3 linked regions of the Homo sapiens genome follow. The protein of the gene in region 2 interacts with the protein of the main gene of each other region in a pairwise test. Each region holds a gene or a part of one and is shown on either strand. Other genes may lie near its edges.

Evidence for each region. The genes of interacting proteins can lie anywhere in the genome.
Region 1: the proteins of GOLGA4 (region 2) and ANKRD27 interact in a two-hybrid assay, tested with the Homo sapiens proteins (one study listed by BioGRID and IntAct).
Region 3: the proteins of GOLGA4 (region 2) and RTN1 interact in a two-hybrid assay, tested with the Homo sapiens proteins (one study listed by IntAct).

The regions. Positions count from the first base shown.
Region 1 is NC_000019.10:32,594,988-32,602,986, forward strand, and holds the end of ANKRD27 (ankyrin repeat domain-containing protein 27), read right to left. Parts: intron 7,140-7,999; coding exon 7,028-7,139; intron 5,064-7,027; coding exon 4,985-5,063; intron 4,790-4,984; coding exon 4,717-4,789; intron 3,392-4,716; coding exon 3,158-3,391; 3' UTR 2,019-3,157; downstream 1-2,018. UniProt on the Homo sapiens protein: May be a guanine exchange factor (GEF) for Rab21, Rab32 and Rab38 and regulate endosome dynamics.
Region 2 is NC_000003.12:37,356,854-37,366,177, reverse strand, and holds part of GOLGA4 (golgin subfamily A member 4), read right to left. Parts: intron 4,936-9,324; coding exon 4,906-4,935; 3' UTR 4,873-4,905; intron 99-4,872; coding exon of another isoform or gene 75-98; 3' UTR 1-74. UniProt on the Homo sapiens protein: Involved in vesicular trafficking at the Golgi apparatus level. May play a role in delivery of transport vesicles containing GPI-linked proteins from the trans-Golgi network through its interaction with MACF1. Involved in endosome-to-Golgi trafficking.
Region 3 is NC_000014.9:59,593,965-59,602,582, forward strand, and holds the end of RTN1 (reticulon-1), read right to left. Parts: intron 2,824-8,618; coding exon 2,781-2,823; 3' UTR 2,019-2,780; downstream 1-2,018. UniProt on the Homo sapiens protein: Inhibits amyloid precursor protein processing, probably by blocking BACE1 activity.

The DNA.
Region 1 (7,999 bases), on a different chromosome or scaffold from region 2:
ATTTTGAAAAAAATCCCATTTACAGGTAAATTTTGCTTTAGGCCTCATTTACATACAAATGCTAGGAGGACATGAGGCAGTTCACAAGTTCTGTGCTTTCTCACAGGATAACCACTGTCCTAATGGCAACTGCTGTGAGTGTGTTTAAAGATGGTCAGACTCTTTCAGACACCTACCTGAGAGTGAAAAGTGGTTCCATGTACAAGGAGAGAGGTTCCTGATGGCAATAAGAGGCTGGAGTACATTTTAGGGAGTGGAGAGTGGTTATTCTAAACTTTCTAATTTAAATCAGTGAACTTGCGTTACTTTGAATTCAAAACTTTTTTCCACAAAAATGGAAATTAGGGGCATTAATTTCTCAACTGTCACATCAAGTTTTGGGTAGGGAAAGCAATTGGAAAAAACAACTGGTTGTTTGCTTTTTTTTGAGATGGAGTATTGCTCTGTTGCCAGGCTGGAGTGCAGTGGCATGATCTTGGCTCACTGCAACCTCTCTCCCAGGTTCAAGCAATTCTCCTGCCTCAGCATCCCAAGTAGCTGGGATTACAAGCGCACGCCACCACACCCAGCTAATTTTTGTACTTTTAGTATAGACAGGGTTTCACCATGTTGGCCAGGATGACAACTGTTTTTTAAAAATAATCGAGGGAGTCACTTAAGATGGAAAACATTACTGATGACCAGAATAGCTCAAAAAGAAACAGCATTTACCTCTCCAGAGGAAGGGTACACCAAGCTTGCAGCTGCCACTGCCAACCAGGCCTTGATCCTGGCTGTGAGATCCCTCGCAGTCCCCTTATTTTTCTGAACCTGTTTCCTCATTTGACAATTCTACCATTCACAGTGATTGTTGAAATTAAATGGGTATATGTGAAAATGTTTTCAGCTGGGCGCAGTCGCTCATGCCTGCAATCCCAGCACTTCGGGAGGCCAATGTGGGCAGATCACTTGAGGTCAGGAGTTCAAGACCAGCCTGGCCAACATGGTGAAACCCCATCTCTACCAAAGATATAAAAATTAGCCAGGCATGGATGGTGGCAGGTACCTGTAATCCCAGCTATGCGGGAGGCTGAGGCAGGAGAATTGCTTGAATCTGGGAGGCAGAGGCTGCAGTGAGCCGAGATGGTGCCACTGCACTCCAGCCTGGGTGACAGAGCGAGACTCCATCATCTCAAGAAAATGTTTTCAAAATTATATTGCACTACCCCAACATATTAGGTGGTGTCAAATGTGTGTATTTGTATCTTGAGAATACCTGTGCTGATAAACTGTATAGGATGTATTAATTAGGATGGTATAGAACCACAGCAGCTTCAGTCTATAAGGTGGTTTTGTTTAAAAGTAGGGAAGGCTGGGCATGGTGGCTCACACCTGTAATCCCAGCACTTTGGGAGGCCGAGGCGGGCGGATCACGAGGTCAGGAGATTGAGACCATCCTGGCTAACACGGTGAAAAACCCTGTCTCTACTAAAAATACAAAAACAAAAAAACAAAAACAAAAAAAACACTAGCCGGGCATGGTGGTGGGTTCCTATAGTCCCAGCTACTCAGGAGGCTGAGGCAGAAGAATTGCTTGAACCTGGGAGGCGGAGGCTGCAGTGAGCCGAGATGGTGCCACTGCACTCCAGCCTGGGTGACAGAGCGAGACTCCATCTCAAAAAAAAAAAAAAAAGGGAAAAGGAAAAATCAGAACAAAGAAATTAGCAAAGCAACAGGGCTCATTTCCTGTTTGTTTGGGGTAGGAAGCTGTATTCATTTTATTCTTCTGATTTCCAAAGAAAAACATTTTTGTGGGCCCGGGACACTGTGCCTACTGGGTTAAGTAGGCCTTGGTCAGTAGATGAATAATGAGCTAAGTGATCAAGTTCCCATGTTTCAATCTCACATCTATAACTGAAAAATGTATATCCATTCAATGGGGACCCTTTTTCTCACACACAAAGCACATGTTTACAGCAGACAGGCTGAGAAACATATCATCTGCAGCCAAACAACTAAAAAAAAATACCATGACACAGTCAAGAATCATAAAGTTTACTGTTTCTTTTCCATCATTTGGCACATATCCAAGGCACATTAGAAAATTAGAAATCATAAATTACTTTGTAGAAAAATAATCCCTCCCTTCCTTCTGTACATACACAAGTATTTCCAAGAACATGGACAAAACCATTTCCCTATCACAAGGTCATTTGAAAACGGACTCAGGACAAACCCATATACGTGTAGCTCTAGGCCAATAACATAAAAATAACAGTATAATCTATAGAAATTTATAAAAAGGAATAAATGGCAATAAATTCTAACCGAAAGTAACTCTGACCTGGTTTGTGCTGTTAAGTTTTGAATTTGAATCAAAAGACTAAGAAAAGATGTGCCAAATCTACTCTCTAATCCAGTAACCATCCCGTCAGGTGTGAGTGTGACAGACATTCAAGGGAGGTTCTCAACAAAAAGGGATGTTTCTAGAAATACTGCTACAGGTGCACGTGTAGTAACCGAATATCTGTACCTACTTGTTAGAAGGAAAATGATAACCACCCTTTCCCATGTGCATGATGTGGAACAGGTCTGATGCATCCTTTCACTAAAATGAATATCAAAATGGGATTGAGGCATCTTTTGGTTCGAGTGTTGCTTTGCAAAGAAACATTGTCCAGCTGCTGCTTTCTTCCTTCAGATATGACATTTCAGCCTGGCCTCTACAGTACCATGAAACCTAAATTACTTACTTCTCTCCAGCTTAATCCTAGGTGGAGGAATTCTAGCTGTGGTTTGTGAATGTACACAGGTCAGAGAGGTTTAGCACCTTTTGGGAGGAGGAGGTCAGAATGCGGTGGTGAAACCTCTCCCACTGTGACCAACAAACCCTCATACTTAAAAAGAAGCATGCACCTCTGGCTTAAGGATCTGGATGCTACTGGAATTTTTGTCTGTTTCAATTGTATTCATTAGCTTTGAAGAGGAGAGAGATGGTGGTGGTTAACTTTTTTGTTGCATTCTTTCCTGCCACAGAAAAGCTTTCAGGAACTTGGTGCTGAAGACTTCTCAAGCCAGTCTCATGGAAGCACATTTAGTTCTCAGATGTGTTCACGCTCAGCATCATCTTGTTGCATCCTTGCTTCCTAGCAGTGGGTTCAACAACTCCTCATTCCTGTTAGGACCGGGAAGCACTAACCTCTTGGGGAGTGGAGAGGGGGCCAGCAGCCTCCGGGCCCTGGGACACGACCGCATCCTCTACCGTGTGTCTCCGCAGCATCCGTCTGTGTCCAGGGCCAGTCTGTGTCAGTCCAGGCCTCTCTGGCCAGTCGCTGTTGCCTTTCTCAGCAGCATGAGATCCACTCTGAGCTGGCAGGTTATTCTGTCTCAGTGTGACACTTTGCCTCCCTGGCTAAAGAAAAAGTACATTTTTAACCGTTGACGTCCTCACTGTACTGGAAGCCACAACCATGACAGTGACAGCTGCCCCTTAGTGCCTAGTGTCACATAATGTGCTCAGTGCTTGACAGGCATAATTTCAATTCTCACATCCCTGTCGTGGTAACATGGCATGTGCATACTACATGTGTCAGAGTAAATGTTTCACTTGTTTTCACAATCTTTATGACTCTAGGAGGCATGTACTACTATTGTTATCCCCGTTTTACACCTGAGGAAACAGGATCAGCAAAGTTAAGCCACCTGCCTAAAGTCCTACAGCTAGCAAGGGAAAAGCTAGCACTTGATGGAACTCAGGCAGATTTCAACGATTCTGGCTTTCCCACAAAGCAGCAGGTCTCCTAGCAACACCACATAAGACTAAATATGGTATCAAAATTAGTCATGTTAATTAAAATCATTTTAATTATCTAAAACAATTTAGAACTTTTGTGTATTTGTTCCAACAAGCCTATGCTACATATGCTATAAATTCTCATCAGCAACAAGGAAAGCTGTGGTTCTGAGAAGAATCACTGTCTCCGATCACAGGTTTTCAATCAAGCTTCTGAGTGATTTAAAAATGCAGTAGGGTCCGGGCACGGTGGCTCACACTTGTAATCCCAGCACACTGGGAGGCCAAAGCGGGCAGATCACTTGAGGTCAGGAGTTCAAGACCAGCCTGGCCAACGTGGTGAAACTGCGTCTCTACTAAAAATACAAAAAAATTAGCCAGGAATAGTGGCACATGCCTGTAATCCCAGCTACTCAGGAGGCTGAGGCGGGAGAATGCTTGAACCCGGGAGGTGGAGACTGCAGTGAGCCGAGATCGTGCCACTGCACTCCAGCCTGGGCCACAGAGCAAGACTCTGTCTCAAATAAATAAATAAAAAAATGTAGTGGGAAGATGGCCACATAAAGAATTGTCTGAGCAACTGTACACCATACTTGGAGACATCATTTACCCATCTATATACAAACTGTCGTTTTCTTTCTTTGGTGATTAAAACCATAGTGAAATGTGGGATGTTTCATCTCCTATAAGCACCAAGACCTGTGGTTTCCCACACATGTAACACTTTCCACTCCTCTGCTCAGAAATGTACTTTTAGTTATAACAATCAGTGAAGTCTGTACTCTACACTGTCCCATGAAATAATTCCAGTTTTAACTGCTGCTAACTCATACGGCGCACGGAATAATGAAGATGACGATCAAGGAGACGTGTTTACCATGGATTACTTTTGACAAAGCCGGGCTTTAGAAAATATGATTAAAAGCCAGTGTTTAATAACTTACCTCATGCAAAGAACCTTCGGTTAAATTAGGGACACTTCTATCTCTTGCCATAATCTCCCTTGAAGTCTTTCCCCTAAAACCCAAAATAAACGAAAATAAATATTTGGGACAGTGGCATGAAACACTCTGGTTGGCCACAAGGTGGCAGCATTTTTGACATTAGTAGGTGCAGATTTGTCCATAACCAATTACAATTGAAGCAGCTTACGTGCAGCTTGGAGTAAACTAGGGGCAAAAGCACAGAAATCAACTTGAGTTTCATACTCACTTAAACTGACCAGCTGAGTGGACAAAGTAAAACTGTCTTGTAAAAGGCTCATCTGGTAGATCATACAGTTTTGAGTTCCCTGTAGATAAAAAGATAAACATCTAAAAACTTCAAAAACAGTTGTAAAGATTATTTTAAAATTACAGCACAGACACAATCTTTCTATTCTCAGATTTACAAAATTTAGAAACTGAAGCACTGAATTTGCTTAAAGAAACACAGCTAGTACCTATTTATAACAGGTTGAGTATCTCCAATCCAAAAATCTAAAGCCTAAAATGCCACAGGCTGGGTGCAGTGGCTCATGCCTGTAATCCCAGCAGTTTGGGAGGCCGAGGTGGGCATATCACTTGAGGTCAGGAGTTCAAGACCAGCCTGGGCAACATGGAGAAACCCCATCTCTACCCAAAATACAAAAACTTAGCCAGGCGTGGTGGCACGCACCTATAATCCCAGCTACTCAAGAGGCTGAGGCAGGAGACTCGCTTGAACCCAGGAGGCAGAGGTTGCAGTGAGCCGAGATTGCACCACCACACTCCAGCCTGGGCGACAGAGCAAGACTCCATCTCAAAAAAAAGCTACAAAATCCGAGACATTTTGAACTCTTTGACTTCATGCTCAGAAGAATCTGATTTCCTGATTTGGATCCTCAACCAATGAGTATAATGCAAATATTCCAAAACCCAAAACACTGCTGGTCCCAAGCATTTGAGATAGGGGGTAGTCAGCCTGTATTATGAGAACCCCCATGAAATAGAAAAATAAAACCTTAACTCCCTTAACTCCCCCAGCCACAACCAATTACGGTGAGACAGTCTCAGGGTTATCGAGATATGTGAATGGGTTTATCCATATTATTGTATTGCATTATTGCATACCTCACTGGATAATATTTCATATTGTAAATTAAAAAAAAAAGTAGAACAAGGACCCCTTCTAAACTTTTTAAAAAGAAGAAAATACTTCAGTCTCACTGCTGTTCGGCAACTGCTGTTTTAATTATAATCAACCTCCGTACACGTACAAACTTAAAAAAAAATCTTGAGGCCAGGCGCGGTGGCTCACACCTGTAACTCCAGCACTTTGGGAGGCCAAGGAGGGCGGATCACTTGAGGTCAGGAGTTTGAGACCAGCCTGGCCAACATTGTGAAACCCTGTCTCTACTAAAAATACAAAAATTAGCCAGGCATGGTGGCACGTGCCTGTAATCCTAGCTACTCGGGAGGCTGAGGAAGGGGAATAACTTGAACCCAGGAGGCAGAGGTTGCGTGAGCTGAGATTGCACCACTGCGCTCCAGCCTGGGTGACAGAGTGAGACTCTGTCTCAAAAAAACTAACTAAATAAAAAATCTTGGTGGCTCACACCTGTAATCTCAGCACTTTGGGAGGCCAAGGCGGGCAGATCACGAGGTCAGGAGATGGAGACCATCCTGGCTAACACGGTGAAGCCCCTCTCTACTAAAAATACAAAAACAAAATTAGCTGGGCGTGGTGGCTGGCACCTGTAGTCCCAGCTACTTGAGAGTGGGAGGCAGCTACTTGAGGCAGGAGAATGGCGTGAACCCAGGAGGCAGAGCTGGCAGTGAGCTGAGATCACACTACTGCACTCCAGCCTGGGTGACAGAGCGAGACTCTGTCTCAAAAAAAAAAAAAAAAAAAAAATCTTGAAAGGTAGCATTTACCCTGGATGTCCAGGAAATGCCCAGAACACCTGACTTTGGAACATGAGGCATGAAAGAAACTATCCCAGAGACTGTTCCCCATCTCCATAGGCAGACACCTGAACCTTCAAGGTAGTGTTGACAGTTTCTATCCTATTTCCTCAGGAAACATCATTACCATCAACCAGAAAACTAGTAACAAAAAAAGCTTACCCATAGTCTGATAAATTGGGAGGTAACATACATTTCTTTGGTGCCTGTATCTCCTCCAGGCATGATTATAATTACACTTTACATATACAATTAAATGAACACCAGCAACTACTCATGAATGTCTAAATATACCCAACTTGAGCGTGACAGAAAGAACGTAAACTCTTACATTTTTTCCTGATCTTAACAGTGACATACTCCTTGCGGTCAGTTTCAGCCACATCATCTAATGAAGCAACACAGCTTGGTACCACCTGAAGCAATTCCATTATTTTTGAATTCTGCAATTTGAAAGGGAAAAGGAACAGTAATGTTTTTATTCTTTTTTAATAGGTTATTATTTGTTTTTGATCTAAATGTCAGTATTAGTGTGACTGGGCAGAAAAAGCTCAGAAATAATTACAAATGGAGCTTGGAGGCCATAAAGCCCAGTGGTAAAAGCAGGCCTGCATGGGGAGCCCGGCTCTGCTTTTACCACTGGGTAAAAGCTCTGCCCTCTCTGTGGACTCCACGCTGGGGATTCAACCACTCCATGCAACCAGCTCAACCATAATAAGATCTACTATCATATGCTTATCATGAGGCTGTTGAGGGCCCCCATATAGTAAGTACTCATTGAAACACATTAATTAACTGGGCACGGTGGCTCACGCGTGCAATCCCACCACTTTGGGAGACTGAGGTGGGAGGATTGCTTGAGCCCAGGTGTTCAAGACTAGCCTGGGCAACATAGCAAGGCCCTGTCTCTATTTAAAAATAATAAAAGGCCAGGCGCGATGGCTCACGCCTGTAATCTCAGCACTTTTGAGAGGCCGAGGCGGGTGGATTGCTTGAGCCCAGGCAGTCGAGACCAGCCTGGCCAACATGGCAAAACCCTGTCTCTATTAAAAAAAAATTAGCTGGTCATGGTGGCACACGCCTATAGTCCCAGCTACTTGGGAGGCTGAGGTTGGAGGATCATCTGCGCCCAAAGGTTAAGGCTGCAGTGAGCCAAGATTGCACCATTATACTCCAGCCTGGGCAACAAATTGAGACTCTGTCTCAAAAAATAATAATAATAATAAAATTAAAAATTTTAAAAACCAAAAAAAATTCAACATAATCATTTAAGAAAGTACTAAACTGAGAGTTTAAAATATTT
Region 2 (9,324 bases):
ATGACAACTTCATTCTCAAAGAGTAGCAAGTGTGGACAGTTTTCCAAGCAGCAGTCACCCAATGTCACTCTTCTTCAAGATGAAGATCGGAGCCATGACTGGAAAAGAAAAAGGAAAAGAGAATAAAGAAAGGGGGCAAAAAAATCCAAAACATTTAGGTTGACTTTTTGGGATATTTGTTTTTTCAAGTTTGAAATAAAATTCTATTCCATGGTCTAGAGACTGCAGTAAAGAGGCAGAAATAAGGCTGGGTGTGGTAGCTCATGACTGTAATCCCAGCACTTTGAGAGGCCAAGATGGGAGAATCACTTGAGGCCAGGAGTTCGAGACCAGCCTGGTCAACACAGCAAGACCCCATTCTGAAAAAAAAAAAAAAAAGTAGAAATTGTCTAAACACTAAATCTTAAAGGTATCTTCTAAAAATTAACATTCTTGCAATGATGCAAACCAACCTATAGTCAGCAATCCTGGAAAATGGCATTTCTAAGTGAAATTTGGAACTGCAACCATTTACCATATATCGAATGCTACCAGTTTATACAGTAACCCAGGAGTAAACACGCTGACTTGGCTGAATCTCACAAATATTGGACTGGAATTAAAGATGACAGGCTGGACCCAGTGGCTCATGCCTATAATCCTAGCACTTTGGAAGGCCAAGGTGGAAAGATCACTTGAGGCCAGGAGTTTGAGACCAGCCTGGCCAACATGGCAAAACCCTGTCTCTACTAAAAATACAAAAAAATTAGCCGGCCGTGGTGGTGCTTGTAACCCCAGCTACTCGGGAGGCTGAGGCAGGAGAAATCACTTGAACTCAGGAGGCGGAGGTTGCAGTAAGCCGAGATCATGCCATCGCTCTCCAGCCTGGGCAACAGAGTGAGAGACTGCCTCAAAAAAACAATAAAAAATAAAGATGAGAAAGAGCTCTTTCCTCTTATCCAGTGTGCTGATTATTCTACAAATTGCAATTCTCCCAGCATGACATAATAGCAAAAGACAAACAGCATTTTGGTGTGGAAATTTATGTCTCATCTGGAATTAAGAAATTTAATTTAAAAATTAAAAACAGCCTGGGCAACATAGTGAGATCCCATTGCTACAAAAAATAGAAAAAATTAGACAGGCATGATGGTGTGTGTCTGTAGTCCCAGCTACTCAGGAGGTTGAGGCAGGAGGATCGCTTGAGCCTGGGAAGTCAAGGCTGCAGTGAGCTGACTGTACCACTGCACTCCAGGCTTGGCGACAGTGACACCTTGTCTCAAAAAATAAATTAATTAGAAATGCTGGCTGGGCATGGTGGCTTATGCCTATAATCCCAGCACTTTTGGGAGACCAGGGTCAGAGGACTGCTTGAGCCCAGGAGTTCAAGACCAGCCTGGGCAACATGGCAAGACCCTGTATCTACAAACTTTTTTTTAAAAAAAATAGCTAGGTGTGGTGGCATGTGTCTGTGGTCCCAGCTACTCAGAAGGCTGAGGCGGGAGGATTCCTTGAGCCCAGGAGGTCAAGGCTGCAGTGAACTGTGTTCACGCCACTGCACTCTAGGCTGGTGTGACCATGCTGGGGGGCAAAAAAAAAAAAAAAAGCTATGACATAGCCAAAGTCTTCCTCATAATGTTTCTCAAATGAAAATGCTGGCCAGGAGCAGTGGCTCACGCCTGTAATCCCAGCACTATGGGAGGCCAAGGCAGGTGGATCACCTGAGGTCAGGAGTTCGAGACCAGCCTGGCCAACATGGTGAAACCCGGTCTCTACTAAAAATACAAAAAATAAGCTGGGTGTGGTGGCGGGCACCTGTAACCCCAGCTACTCAGGAGGCTGAGGCAGGAGAATCACTTGAGCCTGGGAGGTGGAGGTTGCAGTGAGCCGAGATTGCGCCACTGCACTCTAGCCTGGGCAACAAGAGTGAAACTCCGTCTCAAATATAAAAAAAAGAAAAGGAAAAGAAAATGCTAAAACCAGTAGTCACATCAAGATATGAGTTTAAAATCCCATAAAAATAAATTACCAAGTAAGATTAATAGAGGCAAACTTTCCATATATATTAAGTGGATAGGGGGAGTTTTAGTCTTCTGAATTTGTAAATGAACAAATATTTCACTACTCATAATGTACTACTAATAGTATATTATTTATAAAACTAGTTCAATAATCATGTTGGTCCTAGGAACCTAAAGAAGACACCAACAAGATCTTCTGTTATACGTAAATTCCTTGTCAGTTTTTATTTTGAAACCGTAGCTTGATCTGTTGTGGGAAACAAAATTCAAGATCAGTTCAACAATGCTGCATCATTAAAAACAAAAAAGCTAGACGTTTTCTAGTTTAAAAAAGACTAGGAAAATATGACCACTAAATGCAATGTGAAATCTCAAGTGGATCCTGGATTCTAAAAAATTATGGGAGACATTATTTGGAAAACTGTAAAAAACTGAGTATTATGTACTATATATTAGTATTAGCTAATATTAAACTTCCTGAGTGTAATAACTGTACTGTATGTAGAAAAATGTCCTTGTTCTTAAAGATACATGCTAAAGTACTTAGTTTATGTTTACAATTGTCAAATGCTTGCAAGCATGTCGGCAAGTAATTGCCAAATGTTACAAATGGGGAATAATATAAATGGAGAGAGAACAAGAGTGACAGCAAGTCAGAAAATCTGGCCAAACATTACTAGGTGAAGGGTATATGGGTGTTCATTGTACTATTTTTGCAAATCTTATGTCTGAAATGTTTCAAACTAAAAGTTGAGGAGACAATCAATTAATCAATTAATAGAAATGCTGCACAATATACATTTCCAGTGATAATTGATATTCAGCTGCAATAATAACAAGTACAATGCAGTATTATTTTAAAAGGAAAACATTAAGACTTAATGGGTTAGCTATAGAATTTACAGTTTTTCAATGTTCACATTTATTATCAAAGTAACCTAATAAAACCATGCATTGTACTGCCAGCCATTGTAATGTGGATGACAAAAATAAGACAGTTCTGGATAATCGCTAAGGCAAATCAAATAATATATATTAAAATCAAAAGGAGGCTCAAATGAAGGCACAGAAGATTTTTAAAGATAAAAGCTTAGAGGGCCAGGCACAGTGGCTCACGCCTGTAATCCCAGCACTTTGGGAGGCCAAGGTGGGCAGATCATGAGGTCAGGAGATCGAGACTATCCTGAATAACACGGTGAAACCCTGTCTCTACTAAAAATACAAAAAATTAGCTGGGCATGGTGGCGGGTACCTGTAGTCCCAGCTACTCAGGAGGCTGAGGGAGGAGAATGGTGTGAACCCAGGAGGCGGGGCTTGCAGTGAGCCAAAAACACGCCACTGCACTCTAGCCTGGGTGACAGAGCGAGACTCCGTCTCAAAAAAAAAAAAAAAAAAAAGCTTAGAGGCTGAGGTAGGAAGATCGCTTGAGCCCAGGAGTTCGAGACCAGCCTATGCAAGACCATCACTACAAAATAAAATAAAATAAAAAAATAGGTGCCTTAGAGTCCCAGTTATTTGGGAGGCTGAGGTGGGAGGATCCCTTGAGCCCAGGAGCTGACACAGGAATGAACTATGATCACACTACTGCCCTCCAGCCAGGGTGATAAAGGCTTTACTTATTTTTTAAAAAAAAATAAATAAGGCCGGGCGCGGCTCACGCCTGTAATCCCAGCACTTTGGGAGGCCGAGGCGGGCGGATCACGAGGTCAGGAGATCGAGACCATCCTGGCTAAAACGGTGAAACCCCGTCTCTACTAAAAAAAAATACAAAAAATTAGCCGGGCGTAGTGGCGGGCGCCTGTAGTCCCAGCTACTTGGGAGGCTGAGGCAGGAGAATGGCGTGAACCCGGGAGGCGGAGCTTGCAGTGAGCCGAGATCCCGCCACTGCACTCCAGCCTGGGCGACAGAGCGAGACTCCGTCTCAAAAAAAAAAAAAATAATAAATAAATAAATAAATAAATAAATAAATAAATAAATAAAAGCTTAAAAGAACGGAGAAATGTTGTATCTTGCCATTTTAAACCTTGATACTATTATTAGCTGGATATTAACAATCACTGAGAGTATTTATTTTAATTATAGTGAAGCCCTACTAATTGTGATCTGTTTTTGATTTTGTGAAAATTCTAGCAAAGGCTGAGGTAAAGATGTATGGTACATTTTCAGAGGGTGCTAAATCAACCTAATAGCATGAAAAATACATAGAGATGAGGGGAGAGGGTTTAAATGATGAAGACAGTCAACTGCGTTGAAACATTTCATATGCCTGCATTTCACTGTAATATGTTAATCAGGAAGAATCACATTCAATTAAAGTAGGCTGCCTAACGGTCTCCTCAGGACAAATGTGTTGTCTTGTGTTAAACTGTCTGATTTCAGGAAGTAATGAAGCTATATTTTAAAATTGATCTTACTAGTTTTCATTATTTCTGACTGGCCTTGACTCAGGCTTTACAGGATTTTGAATTCTCACGGAATATACCACTTCATTTTTATCTAGAAAATGATTTTTCATTTCTCTCTCACAATCATAATTTCAAAGATCATTCTTGGAAAATTAAAAACAAAAGGGAAAATAAGTTACATAAATACTTTTTTGGATTCTTTAACAAAATTTCAAAGAGCAATTTTCAAACTTTCAATTACTCTTTAAAGAAATGAAATTTCCTAAAATTATATAACTCTTACTGGTGGTAGTAATTTTTAACTATTATCGATCCATATAACAGAATGAACAGAAAATACTTATATTAACCCATAGCATAATCATATATTTATTAAACAAGAGCAAAAGAATTCCAGCAAAATGGTTAGTATCAGGCAACACATTTGATTTTTGCACAAAAGACACAAGACATTGTTCTTCACTCACCACATGTTAACTAAGCACAGACTGATGGTTTACTCAGAAGATACCACTGCGAGGTGAAGTAAACTACAAAGCCAGGAAGAAAAAAAGCTTATTGGGTTAGTTTTAAGACTTAATATAACACATAGATTGTATGTGTATATGAAGTTCATAGGATTACAGACTGTACTTAAATTTTTCTCAAATCTCCCCAAATCAAGGGTGTACAGGCAAGGAATAAGGAATCTGTAATACCTCCCCCCATATCCTAGGTAAATATAATATTATGTAGCTGAGATTTTACTTGCAACTTTCATTTGAAGACTTAAACAACGTAATGAAAGGTGTACTGCATATTTTAAGTACATATTTACCAGCTGAATTACGGGGCAATTATTTGCTTTACAAAAGGATCTCTTTCATAATTCCATGAAAGTACACATTAAAATTTGATTTACATAATCTCAATTTACCCTAAAAAGTTTTCGGGAAAATGATGATGAATTTGAAGAGCCATGTGTCTATATGTTGAATTCTCATTCCTAATGTGTCAATTTGATCACTGAATAACTCTCTTGTAATTCAACAATGTATCAGAAATGGTTTCAGGAATGGTGACCCAAACTGAAATTTCAATTTAAGGAAACTCAATCTCAAATATAGTTTTTACTGTGACAAACCTTAAATAAATTCTATGCCCCATTTTAAGATGGTCATTGTCCAAAATCATTAATTACCTTCACGGTGATTTAAAATGGCAGCATTAAAAACAAAGATTGCTTATAAAATCTGAGTCTATTCTTGGATAGTGTGGCCAACCTCAGAAACATCATTTTATTTATCTTTCATATTTAAAGTTAGTAAAAAGCAGCAAAACCAAAAGACAAGCTAGAAAATAATATGTGCAACACACACAACACAATGAGGTTAATATCCTCTCTGGCAGAAGTATACAAAATCCATGTATATGGATGTTCCCTATGTCTATGCTTGTAAAGTACTGAAAATCTTGAAAACATAAGTAAATGGAATGAGGAGGAAACTGGTGAACTAAACTGTAGGACATCCATATAATCATACAATCAGCCATTGAAAAGAATGAGACCAATTTGTAATAAGGTGGAATAATATAAAAATATATTAAGTGAAAAAAGCAAGCCATTGCATACTCTCATTTTTATAAAATAAAATGAATGATAAAGGAGTAACTATAAATATGTAATTACATGGCTTAGAAAACATGGAGATATTCCCCAAACTGTTCACAGAGATGATACTGGCATAGCAGAAGTAGTCTGGAGGCTGAAGATCATGAGGGACTCCCTTTCTATGTTTCTGGCTTATAATATTTTTTCCAGTGATCACGTATTACCTTATTCTACCAACACCAGAATCAAAACCAATCTCAAGAAAACAAATATGTATTTGACATGTGCAATATTTTCTATAATGTGTCAGTTTTATTTGTATGTGTTTCCTGAACCCACCTTGCATGCATCTTCTGAGCCCATGCAGAGGGAAAGGGTAAACCTCGTGTGGGAATGGAAAACTTTTGTACCTAGCAATGCTGAAAAGTTCTGATTTTATTAATTCGGAGGAAATTTTGAAAATTCCAACAGGGGAAGAAAATGAGACGTTAAGAGAACACAAGACTGGTCCAGGGCAAGGACTGATGAAGAACTATATACACCACCAAGAATCAGTGTGAAAGCAAAGTTGAAGGAGAGTCAACAGAAGAGCAATTGAAAAAGATGACTAGAATGGACAGAGAACACAAACAAGCCAACCTTCTCCATCAAAGAGAAATTTTCTTTAATGGAGTCATCAAGAAAACAGTGATGTCCATTTATGTCATTACATTTTGCTAGCACTCTAAAGAGAAAAATGTCTAAGAAAACTTTTAAAGAGGGGTTTCCATATAACAAAGGAATCTCAATTCTGAGATGCTTGTTACCCAATTACAATAAACTTTCCTAATGAAATTATCTTAAATAATGTAATAATACTCTCATTTTAAAAAAAATCAGGGTGTACTTCTAGGGCAGTTTTATTCAATAAAAACACTAACAATTAGATGAGCCAAGAACTTATGTATTCACTCTTGCCCATATTGTGCTACTCGAATATCCAGTCTACTCTGGCCATCTAAGCTACCTAAACCATCATAAAATGAAGTAGCAAGGTATAGTAAACTAAAAATTGAGAGGAGGGAAAAAAAGCTGTTCTAGGAAAAACAGAGATATGTGCATTTGGTATGTGCATTTTGTTTTAACTTCTGCCTGCTGTTTAGAAGGCAATTCTTTTTCCTACTTGAAACAAATATAAAACAAGATTTTATACTTTGTGGGGAAAGAAACCTTAGAGATAGTATAATCCAACAATCTCATTTTACCAATGAGGGTCAAAAATATGAAAACAGTTTGCGCTAAGTTATACAGCAGTCAAACCATTGAGATCTAGGCTCTCATCCCAGCAATGTCGCATGTCGCTGGCACTCTAAGGTACCGAAGTTGGAGATGGGGGCATTTTGTGGGCTGGTATCACCGTGTGACTTGACCCTCCTACTGAGGTCTTTAATGGTTTTTCTTATACACATCAATGATTTACCTTTCCAGTCTCTTTTTCCAGAAAAGACTAGTTCTACACATTGCTAAAAGGAGGCTAAATAATTATCACCACCATCCCTACATTATCACTCAGCGCAGGCAACTGTACTCTGGTTCCTGGACAATCCTAACAAGATTATGTTAGTCTTGTGAAGAAAAGAGGCTCTGAGAATTGCCTGAGTTTCCACAGCAAGTCAACAAAGGACTAAGATTCCTTCCCTATACACCAAGACCCTCAAATAAACCAGACTGTAATTATGCTCTGTAATTTAACCTTACTTAACAGATAGTGATTTCTCATCTATAAAATCTACTCGAGACTAGGTTAAACTCTGAAAACAGTAATAACTTGTATCCTGTAATGAGGTTTTTTAAATAAAGAGTATAAAACTCACTGAAGAGAGAGAAGTATAGTAAAGATAAGATATATTGAAAAGTACCTCACCAGCAGTCATAGAAAGCTTTTGATTAGTGCTACAAAGTAAATGTATAATCATCATGGTCAAAAAGCAAAAATTTTAGAATGTATTCCTCTGATAATACCCAATAAATAATGTAAAAACTAACATGGGCTGCACGCTGTCAACACAAAGTACAATCCACACTCTTGCAAGCATCCCAAATACTAATTTGAAGAGGGGGCAGCTCGGCAAAATGTTTTAGGTTTGTTTTGGTTTTCTTATACCAGCTTTTCAGTCCTTAGGCAAAAATAACAAAACACTTAGGGTTGCTGATTTTAATAGAAGTGAAACCATAGCTGCACAGTTACAAAAACTTACAGAAAAGATCCATTTGAAGCATACATTTAAAATTAATGTGATTAAATCATTTAAAAATGATTATTTAATAAACTCCTAAAGTTTTGTTTTCTACACATTTCATCATGTGCACTTTCTATTGGAAAAAGAAAAATCATTTTCATACCTGTGTTTTGTTCTAGCGAGCTACAGCTCAATGGACAGGGATATGAAATTAGCTGAAATTTCTTCAAGAGACTTGTTCAAAGACAGTGATTCTTATTGCTCATTTTATGAATGATGGAAATCTCTGACAAAGGTAACTCTTGCTTCAACTTTCTTATACTCGTGAAACAATCATGAGTCACATTATCAAGTATCAAGAATCTCCTTAAATTGACAAAAGTTGACTCAAATTGATTAATTCATGTCATCTCATATCGTATTTTGGGGACTTCCTCATTTCATGTTCATCATAAAATTTCATATTTCCTAAGCACCATTTTTATTATTTGAATCATATTACTTAAGCATATCTTTTTATTCATGTATGAATGGATATTACCCCTTCCCCCTAAAATTAAAAGTTCCACAAGGTCAACAACCAATGTCTTCCATATCTTCTATTTTCCTATATTTCCCATAACAACTAGAAGAGTAGATGACTGTTGACTGAACTTATTCATTAAGCAAGAGATAATGATGGATGAGACTTTGCTTAAAGGAATAGTAGAAAAGTAGAACATTGTTTCTGGGCAGGTCAACCTCTGGGATAAAGGAAGATTCTTTCAGGAAGAATAAATCAGCTACCATTTCATCCCTACCTAGAATGAATACCACTGTATTCAGGAAGAAAACAGTCTGTTTTTCAAAGACTCTTTTTTTTTAAGTTAAACTTAACAAAAACAAACCTTTTTTGTCTGCTTTAAGAGTTTTATCGATTCACTACCTACATTTACCAATTCGATTTGTTTTTCATCAAAGCAAATCAACCAAAGACTACATGTGTATATGGAATGAAGGGGAATGTTTCCTACCACATTTGCTAGAGCAGCGACTTAGGATGAGCCTACACTATATAGCAAATCCTGAGAAAATGCAGTAGAAGTAAAGTTTGCCATATTCCAACATCA
Region 3 (8,618 bases), on a different chromosome or scaffold from region 2:
GCCTGTGAGAGGAATTCTGGGTCTATAGTATGAGGACAATGTTGCAGATACAGATATTGAAGATTAATTCTATACAATAAAGCCATGTAGAAGAAACTTTGTCTAAAAGGTTGGAGGCTGAAAAACATAAAGAAAAAAGAAAATCCTCTTCTAAATCTAGTAACCATTAAAAAAAAAATCAGGCACCAAACTAAGCTTAGTATCTTCTTTCCCCAAATAATCTCTTCTGGGCTCTCTGTCCTGGAAAATGGCATTGCATCCTGCTGATCAGCGAGTCTTAGTGCTGGGCTAGGGTGAGGCAACCGAGCTTCCTTGGGTGCAAAATTCAAGGAGGCACTCATTCTCAAGGCCAGCTTTCATCTTGAAGCCCCGCAGCTAGTTGGTTACCAGCTCCAGTCCAATCTCCCTCCACATCATCTGTTAGCTGCACCTTATCCATGGTGGGTGCTTGGCATGCTGGGCTATCAAGGATCAGGGACAGGTGAACATCTTTCTATTCTTTCTGTGGCTGTTCTAGTAAAGACCTAGTCATTTGGCACCTGGGTGGAGTTAGGTTACAATTATCACTCTATTTGTCTAGCCTTCAGTATCTTGTACCTTTGTTGTGTCTATGTGACTCTCTGAGATGTAGAGAATAAAGCCCAAACTCCTTGGCACAGGCATCCAAGTTTCTTCCCATTGTGATCTCAACCCACCTTTCCAGCTTTATCTGGCACTATCATTCCCACCCCAAGAACTTTACAACCCATCTAAGCTTGTTTAACTCACCATTCTCTGCATATGCCTCACACTCCACATCTTGGCACTTTAGCTCATGTTCTTTCTTTATCTCGGGCTGGACCTTCTTCATGTGGCAAAAACCAAACCAGGACCCAGCCGTGAAGTTCACCTCCCCTGAGAATCTTCTGTTGCTCAAACCCTGCATCATGGCTCGTTTTTTTTTTTTTGGAGACAAAGTCTCGCTCTGTTGCCCAGGCTGGAGTGCAGTGGTGTGATGTCAGCTCACTGCAACCTCCGCCTCCCAGTTTCAAGCGATTCTCCTGCCTCAGCCTCCTAAGTAGCTGGGATTACAGGCAGGTGCCACCACACCCAGCTAATTTTTGTATTTTTAGTAGAGACAGGGTTTCACCATGTTGATCAGGCTGGTCTTGAACTCCTGACCTCGTGATCCTCCTGCCTCAGCCTCCCAAAGTGCTGGGGTTACAGGCGTGAGCCACCGCGCCCTGCCAATGGCTCTTGTTTTATGCTACCCTTTGCTCAGTTGGCATTTCCACATAGCCACCTGCCCTTTCCCCAGCACAGTGATGAGAGTTTCTGGCTGTTGGCACAGTGCCAAGTGACCCTTGTAACCTTCACGCCACTTTGTATAGAAGGATAACTCCACAAATATTCACTGAACCCAGGTGTAAAACTGGTAAAAGGCAGCTTTTTATAAGCAATCATTCCTTTTTTTCTCCAACTGCTACTCCTTTCATTCACTTCTACCTCTTCGTCTTTGATGTTTGATTGTAGCAGTGAAACAAAATATGCAATTGGACTTGTATAAAAAGCAGTGAGGAATTATTAGAAGACTTCACATGGTGAGGGCAGGAATTGTCATCTTTCTTATTCACAGCCCTATTCTAAGTGCTTGGCACACAGTCAGTGCTTAATAAGTAATTACTAAAACGGTGAGTTCATGGCAATTACAATTGTTTTTGCCAGTGTTTTGTTGCATATTGCCGTACAGTTTATGTAAGAATTTATATCACTTTCAAGTTTTTAAAAACTATCTTAAATATCTGCATCCACCTGACAGAGTACAATATGAAGAGTGATTGACAGTTTACCACTTTTCAGTTTTCTATTAATGACCCAGAAAAACCGTAAGCCAGGTTGCAGTTTGACTCCACAGTCCTAGAGAGAAATAAGGTGAGCATTTGCTCTCAGCCCTCCTAGAATGTCATCGAGTGACTTCATCACTTCGAGCTTTTGTGTTTTCTGGTAAGACCATGCATGAGAAGAGAGGGAGAACATTCTACATTTAGTAACATTTATTTATGCATTCAGTATCAAGTACATAAGTGCAAATATCCAGAGTCCGTAATTGAATCCATTAGGAACTACAGAGAAAGTAATACAAATTGTAATAAAGTTAACATGCTGGTACTTTTTAGTAACCATACATGTAAATCAGCCCACCAATCCCATACAACAAAAGTACTGCATGTTTGTTTTGGATTTATTCATTTATTTAATTATTTTAAGTTATACAAAACTGATTACCATAAGTGCGGTCGACTGCTTTTATTTTTACGTTGTGTGTGTTGGAAAAATGCTAAAACATCAGTCTACAATTCTATATATTGTTATTAAAGATTAATCCAACCAGCAACCCAAGGACATATAAGCGATTTCCACTATTGCATCAGAGCACTCGGCAGGAAAGGCCTAGCCACGGGGAACATTAGAAGCTACAGAAGCATTGCAGAGAAGAGAAGAAGAACACCGAAGAGGGAAAGATAACTTGGGCTCTCACCATCATGCACTTTTTTTAGCAACACAAAATTAAAAACCACATCTAATACACTTTTCTCTATACTTTAGTGGTTGACACAAGTGACTCAAATATCCTAAGAGTACAAGGAACAGCCTAAAAACAGCTGTTTTAAGGTTTGTCTCTAAGATTATGGTACTGGAGGGAGGGGGGAAAGACAATCAATTTGCAGTAATGAGTAAGAAGAGAGCTGTTACCACTCCAGACATTCCTGTTTGTGTCCAGTCCCCGGTGGGAAATCAGTTTACTCAGCATGCCTCTTAGCGCCTGGGATTTTAGCCTGAATCCTAAAAAGACAGTATCAAAAGGTAGTAAATCACAAGTGTTATTAATGAAATCATTTTATGTGTTGTTGCTTTAATTAGCTAAGTGACCAAAGAACTTAATATTCCAGAAGATATTATAGTCTTTATGTAAGTACATCTGCAAATACTCTTCTATAAAGCAATAAGAAGGAAGTAAAAACTGGATAATGAAAATAACAGCAACAAAAAAGAGAATTGGAAGAAAGCCACATTTTTTAGATCTTTTTAGGTGGAGGAACATATTGACTTATTTCAGGATTACAGAAACTGTGATATAGTTAGGGTGATTATTTATCCCCCATCTGGGACACTTCAGAAAGAGAGAGAAAGTGCTATTACTGACTATGCCAGGAAGATGAGCATAAGTAGGGATGGTTATATAACTAGGGATATAATCTGTTCCTATGTTGGACATAGGAAAAGGAACCTATGTTCACCCTCAGAGTAGTCTAATTACCCACAACTGGAATTTAAAAAGCTGGGTCCTAGTCTCAGCTATTCTATTAATTAGCTGTGTGGCATCCGGCAAGCTAAGGGACTTTTCTGGTCCTAAATACTCATTAAAATGTGGGCATAGACTAGATATCTCCAGGGTCCTGAAATTCTGTGATGCTCACAATGTAGCAGCATGATTTTCGGACAGGTTTACACTGGAAGTGTTTTGTTAATTTGAAGATTTATGAGCTTATCGTGCAGATTTTGATTGAGACCTCCCTCTGTGCCATGAGGTACCCTTCCATGTACTGGAATTCAGTGGTCAACAAAAGGGAGGAGATGCTTGCTCTCATGGAGTTTTCATTCCTGTAGGAATTGAGGAGACAGAAATAAACTAGAAGACAAGAGAAGTTTAGATGGTGATAACTGCTATAAAGAAAAACAAGGTGGTATGGCAGGCAGTGAGGGGCACAGTGGTAAGGTGTGTACCACCTCTTTTAAATCCACTCATCTGAGAAACTGATCCTCAGAGGACAGGAAGGGACCATCAGGCAAAGATCTGGATGTGAAGTGTTTCAGGCAGAGGGAGTAATGAGTGCAGAGGCATCACAGAGAGGACAAGCTGGCGGCAAGGAGATGAGAAGCCCGTTTGCTTGGGGTATGGACAGGGGAGGTCTGAAAGGCAGGCAGGGACCAGATGGTGGGTGTTGGAGTTTGTGGGATGCGGTGAGGAGTTTAGATTCTACCCTGTGTGATGGGAAACCATTGATGAATTTAGGCAGGGGAGTGACGTGATCTGATTAATGTTGTAAGAAGATCATGATGGTGGCTGTGTAAAAAAAAAATTGGGAAATGAGAGTAGAAGCAATGAACAGAGGGAGAGAAACCCACAGCAGTCCAAGTACCCGAAGGCAATGCCTGGATTGTATGGTAGACATGGAAATGAAGAGAGGGGAACAGTCTCAGGGTTAGTTTAGAGATGAGGCTGCAGGACCCACTTGATCTGTTGATAAACTGAATGCATAGGCTAGGATTAGAAGAAGAGTAATCAAGGAAGATTCTTTGGTTTTTAGCCTGAGGAACCAGGTGAAAATGCCATTTACCAAGATTGTGATAACTGAAGGAAATACAAGTTCTGGGGTGAGATTGCACGATGTGTGGCTAAGTGAATCTGAAAGGTCTATCAGACACTTTAGAGAAACCTTACATAAATAAGTGGATAGACCTGGTGCTTAGTTGAAGAGGTCTGGGCTGGAGACACAAGTTTGCAGCCCTAGACATGAGATAACCTTTAGGGTCACAGGACCAGAAGGGAGTTGGACAAGAGGAAGAGGTGCCAGCAGAGGACATGTGCAATGGTGACCATCTAACTTCTATTTGAATACTTGAATGAATGTCAGGGTACTCACTCCTTCATGGGGCAGATGGTTCTATTATTGAGCAACTCTAATCATTACTCTTTTCCCTCATATTTCATTCAAATCTCAGAACTTCTAAAATTTCCATTCACTGCTCTTGAGAGAAAAAGGGAAATCCTACTCCTTTAGCAATGTTAGACCTCCAAGTATTTGAGAATGGCTATGGTGTCCTTTTAAAGTCATCTATTTTCCAGGGTAATCATCCCCAGCAAAGTTTGCTCTTCACTGCCCATTACTATCAGATTTCTAATACCACAGTACCCTGGTCATCTTTGTGGCATTACTCCAATGTATTAATGCATCTGTTAAAATGTCCAACCCTGAAATTGAACACAGATATGGGATGGCCAATATGGAATATAATATGACTGTTGCCTATGTTGATTTAGACTTTGTACTCCTACTAATAACAACTCAACTTGCATTGATTTTTTAAAGATGCTTCAGCACATCATTGACTCACATTTGGCTGTGACCAATCAAGCAATTAAAACCCCCGAGGTATTTTTTACATACACCCTTATTGTTACCCTCTCTCATCTATCCCTCGCCGCATTCTATATCTGTAAAGTTGACTTTTTAGAAACCTAAATGTAGGACTTCACTTTCCTTATTAATTTCATTTTATTGATTTCAATTCGGCATTCTCGCTTACTCAAGATCCCTTGATTCATTTTGAATCTTGAGCTTGCCATCTTCTGAATTTGCTTTTGCTTCAAACTGTACATCATCTGGAACTTTGACAAAGATATTTGATTTGTCTTCACATAGTCATGAGAAGTAATGGGGTTGAAAGTAATGGGATCAAAGGCAGAGCCCTGTGTCACATACCTTGGCCCAGACACATATTGGATGGATTAATGAACATCTTTAGGGTCTATTATTTCAATCTTCTAGAATTCTACCACCTGTGCTATCATCTGGATCATACATCTCCATTTTTTTCCACAAGGACACCAAGAAGACTTGCTGACTACCCCCACTAAAATCAGAATACTCACTGGCTAGGGAAGTCCATCTCATCTCAGGGTTTAGTGAAGATACACTGATCTATTCTGAGTATCTACAGTTTTACTAATTCATTCTGGATTTTTGCTTGAAATTAGGCCTTCAGTTTATCAAATATAACATCTAGAATCTTTCTTTCTTCTCATTTGAAGATCGTGACAGCTCCTTTCCAATTTGAGTTTTCAGGATGTCCTTTATTCCATGAGATTTATCAAAGGTCACCAAGAGAGCTTCTAGGTAAAATTACAAGCTACTTTGTCATTCTAAAACATAACTCACCTAGACATAGGGAATTGTATTCACTTAAAGCAGATTTCTTATTATGGTCTCACTTACTCGAAGCTTTAATTTCCTCTACAGTGTTTATTTTGCCTTTTGAAATTTGAGGCTTTTTTCCTCATTTTCAAAACTCTAAGAAGTGTTATTATGCATTATTAACCCCTATTTTAAGCTGGAAAACTGAGACAAACAAAGGTGAAACGACCTAGACAGGGTCACTCAGTATGGAGGAGAGACTGGCCCTGGTGTCTACTGGCCCAATCTGGGACTGTCCTCTACCTCCAAGCCCCATGAACCGATCTCTAAGCAGTAATCGGATGATGATGATGATGATGACAATGATATATAATATTGAGGGTTTCCTACATCCAAGTAAGAATACTTTACAGACATTACCTCATTTAATCACCAAGAACCCTGTGTGGTATTAACATTTCCAATTTACAGATAAGGAAATAGGCTCATAGAGTCAAATAACATTTATGATGAGCTCATACAGCTAAAAATGCCAGAAATGGACTCAGTCTGTCTGATTCTAACAATCATGTTCTTAACTGTACCACTAAAGTGGTGTAAGTTCTTTTGCTGGAATTATTTATTCTAAGGTGGAATTACAATTTCAGAGGTTGAAGAGGACTTAGAGTTAAGATCCCACCAAGAAATTTCCTTCAAAATGTAGTGCCAGGCAAAACAGGTTATTTGGAAGAATTGTTGTTTCCTCCTCTCTGATAGATAGTGAGAACCATGTGACTTGCCTAGTTTCTCTTTTTGTCCTAGCTACCAGGAAATTCAGAGCCAACTCTGCCTGAAGCTCAATTACAGAAGCCATATTAGTCATAGGTAACATTTCCTTTCCATTCCTTTTCACAGCATTGATTTCCAATTGTAATTTAACAAGTACATTGTATATACTTTATATTCTCTGCCATCTCTCTTTTCCCTCCATTTTAACCAGGCCATGCCCTTGTCACTTTTATTTGAATTATGATAACCTCCTAGCTGATGGCCACATCTCTAGTCTCTCCCCTCTCCAATTCTTTTCTCACTAGACTGCCATAGTGATCTTTAAAAAACATAAATCTGATGATATCAATCCCCTGCTTAAAAACATCAAGGGGTGGCCATTTCCTGCTGGGTTGGAATCAAAACTCCACAGAGCATTCACCACCTGGCCTCAGCCTCTCTTCCTACATTCTTTCCAGTTGATCTTTCGACTCAGTTAAGCTCTAGACATACTGGTTGACTGTTGCCTATTAAACATGACTTACATTTTCATGCTTCTCTGTCTTTGCTTTATTACCTCTTCCTCTTGCAACGTCTTTCCCCTTATCATCCACGTGATGACTGTTTACCCATCCTTCAAGGCCCAGGTTGAATGCCACCTTATCTTAATGGCTTTCCACTATCCTGTCCAGGAAGGAACAATTGTTTCCTCATCTCTCTGACTTTAGTATTTCATATAGCTCTACTGTACTTATTATATTTTATTATAGTTATTTCTGTATAATTTTGTCTGCACCACTGGGCTAAGAGCTCTTTTAGGGCTGAGATCATTTCATTTATCTTTATACCCTCTGTACCTATCATATGAAGTGTCCAGAACATAACAGGTACTCCTCTTTTTGGACTCAACCAACAAACCAAATGAAAAAGTAATAGGTATGATTTGTGATACTCAAACTAAGTATTGGACAACTTAGGTCTAGAACTTCTATCTTCCAGTTTCCAAACTCCTATTCTGGTATTCTTTGCTATAGTTTATGAACACAGTTCTAGTTGCCAAAAAGTCACCTGAAGAGTTCATTAAAATATACATTCCAGGTTACCAATCCTAGACATTCTAATTCTATAGGTCTGTGTGGAGTCTTAGCATTTGTATTTTTAAACAGGCTCCTCAGGTTCGGGTACCACCAAGTCTCATACTGTGCTATGATACCATTTCTTAATACAAAATAAAATGATTATTTTATGCTTAATGTGTTGATTTTCATTAGGTATTGGTTACACCTGGGTCCAAGCTGATACGTTCAGGCATTTTGAAATGTGTTGTAGATCTCTCAAAGATCCAAATTCAACATAGAACCCTATGAGTTCCTAATGACTTTAAGAGGACAAATGTAAATAATACACAGTAAAAAACAAAAGTTTATAAACTTCAGAGGGAACTGAAGCACATCACATATAATCTAAGAGCAGAGGAACTTTAATGTGATTGGCCTTTCTTATTTTGTTATTACACATCTTTAACTACCTAAAATGCCTCTCTCTAAATCTGACCCTCACCTAGGTCCAGCCACATTATTATCAGATAATTAGATAGAGTTTTTGTGAAAAAGTCTAGTCCTTTGGTGAAATATATTTATAGTTAAAGATTAGGCTAGCTTTTTAATAAAACAAAATATTGAATAATAATGCAATATAAGAGCTATCACTTTAGATGACTACATACCTAAAAATAGTAATGTAAGAATTAGGGAAAACTCCTAAGTTTAATGATCATGTTAGCTATGGGTATGTAAAACTGAAATCTCTATCTCCTAATATATAAGGGAGCCATAAAGTAAGGCTGAAGACTCAGGTTTAAAAAGCAGTGGTATTAAACACATACACACAGTTGTCGAGTTAAAATGGTGTGAT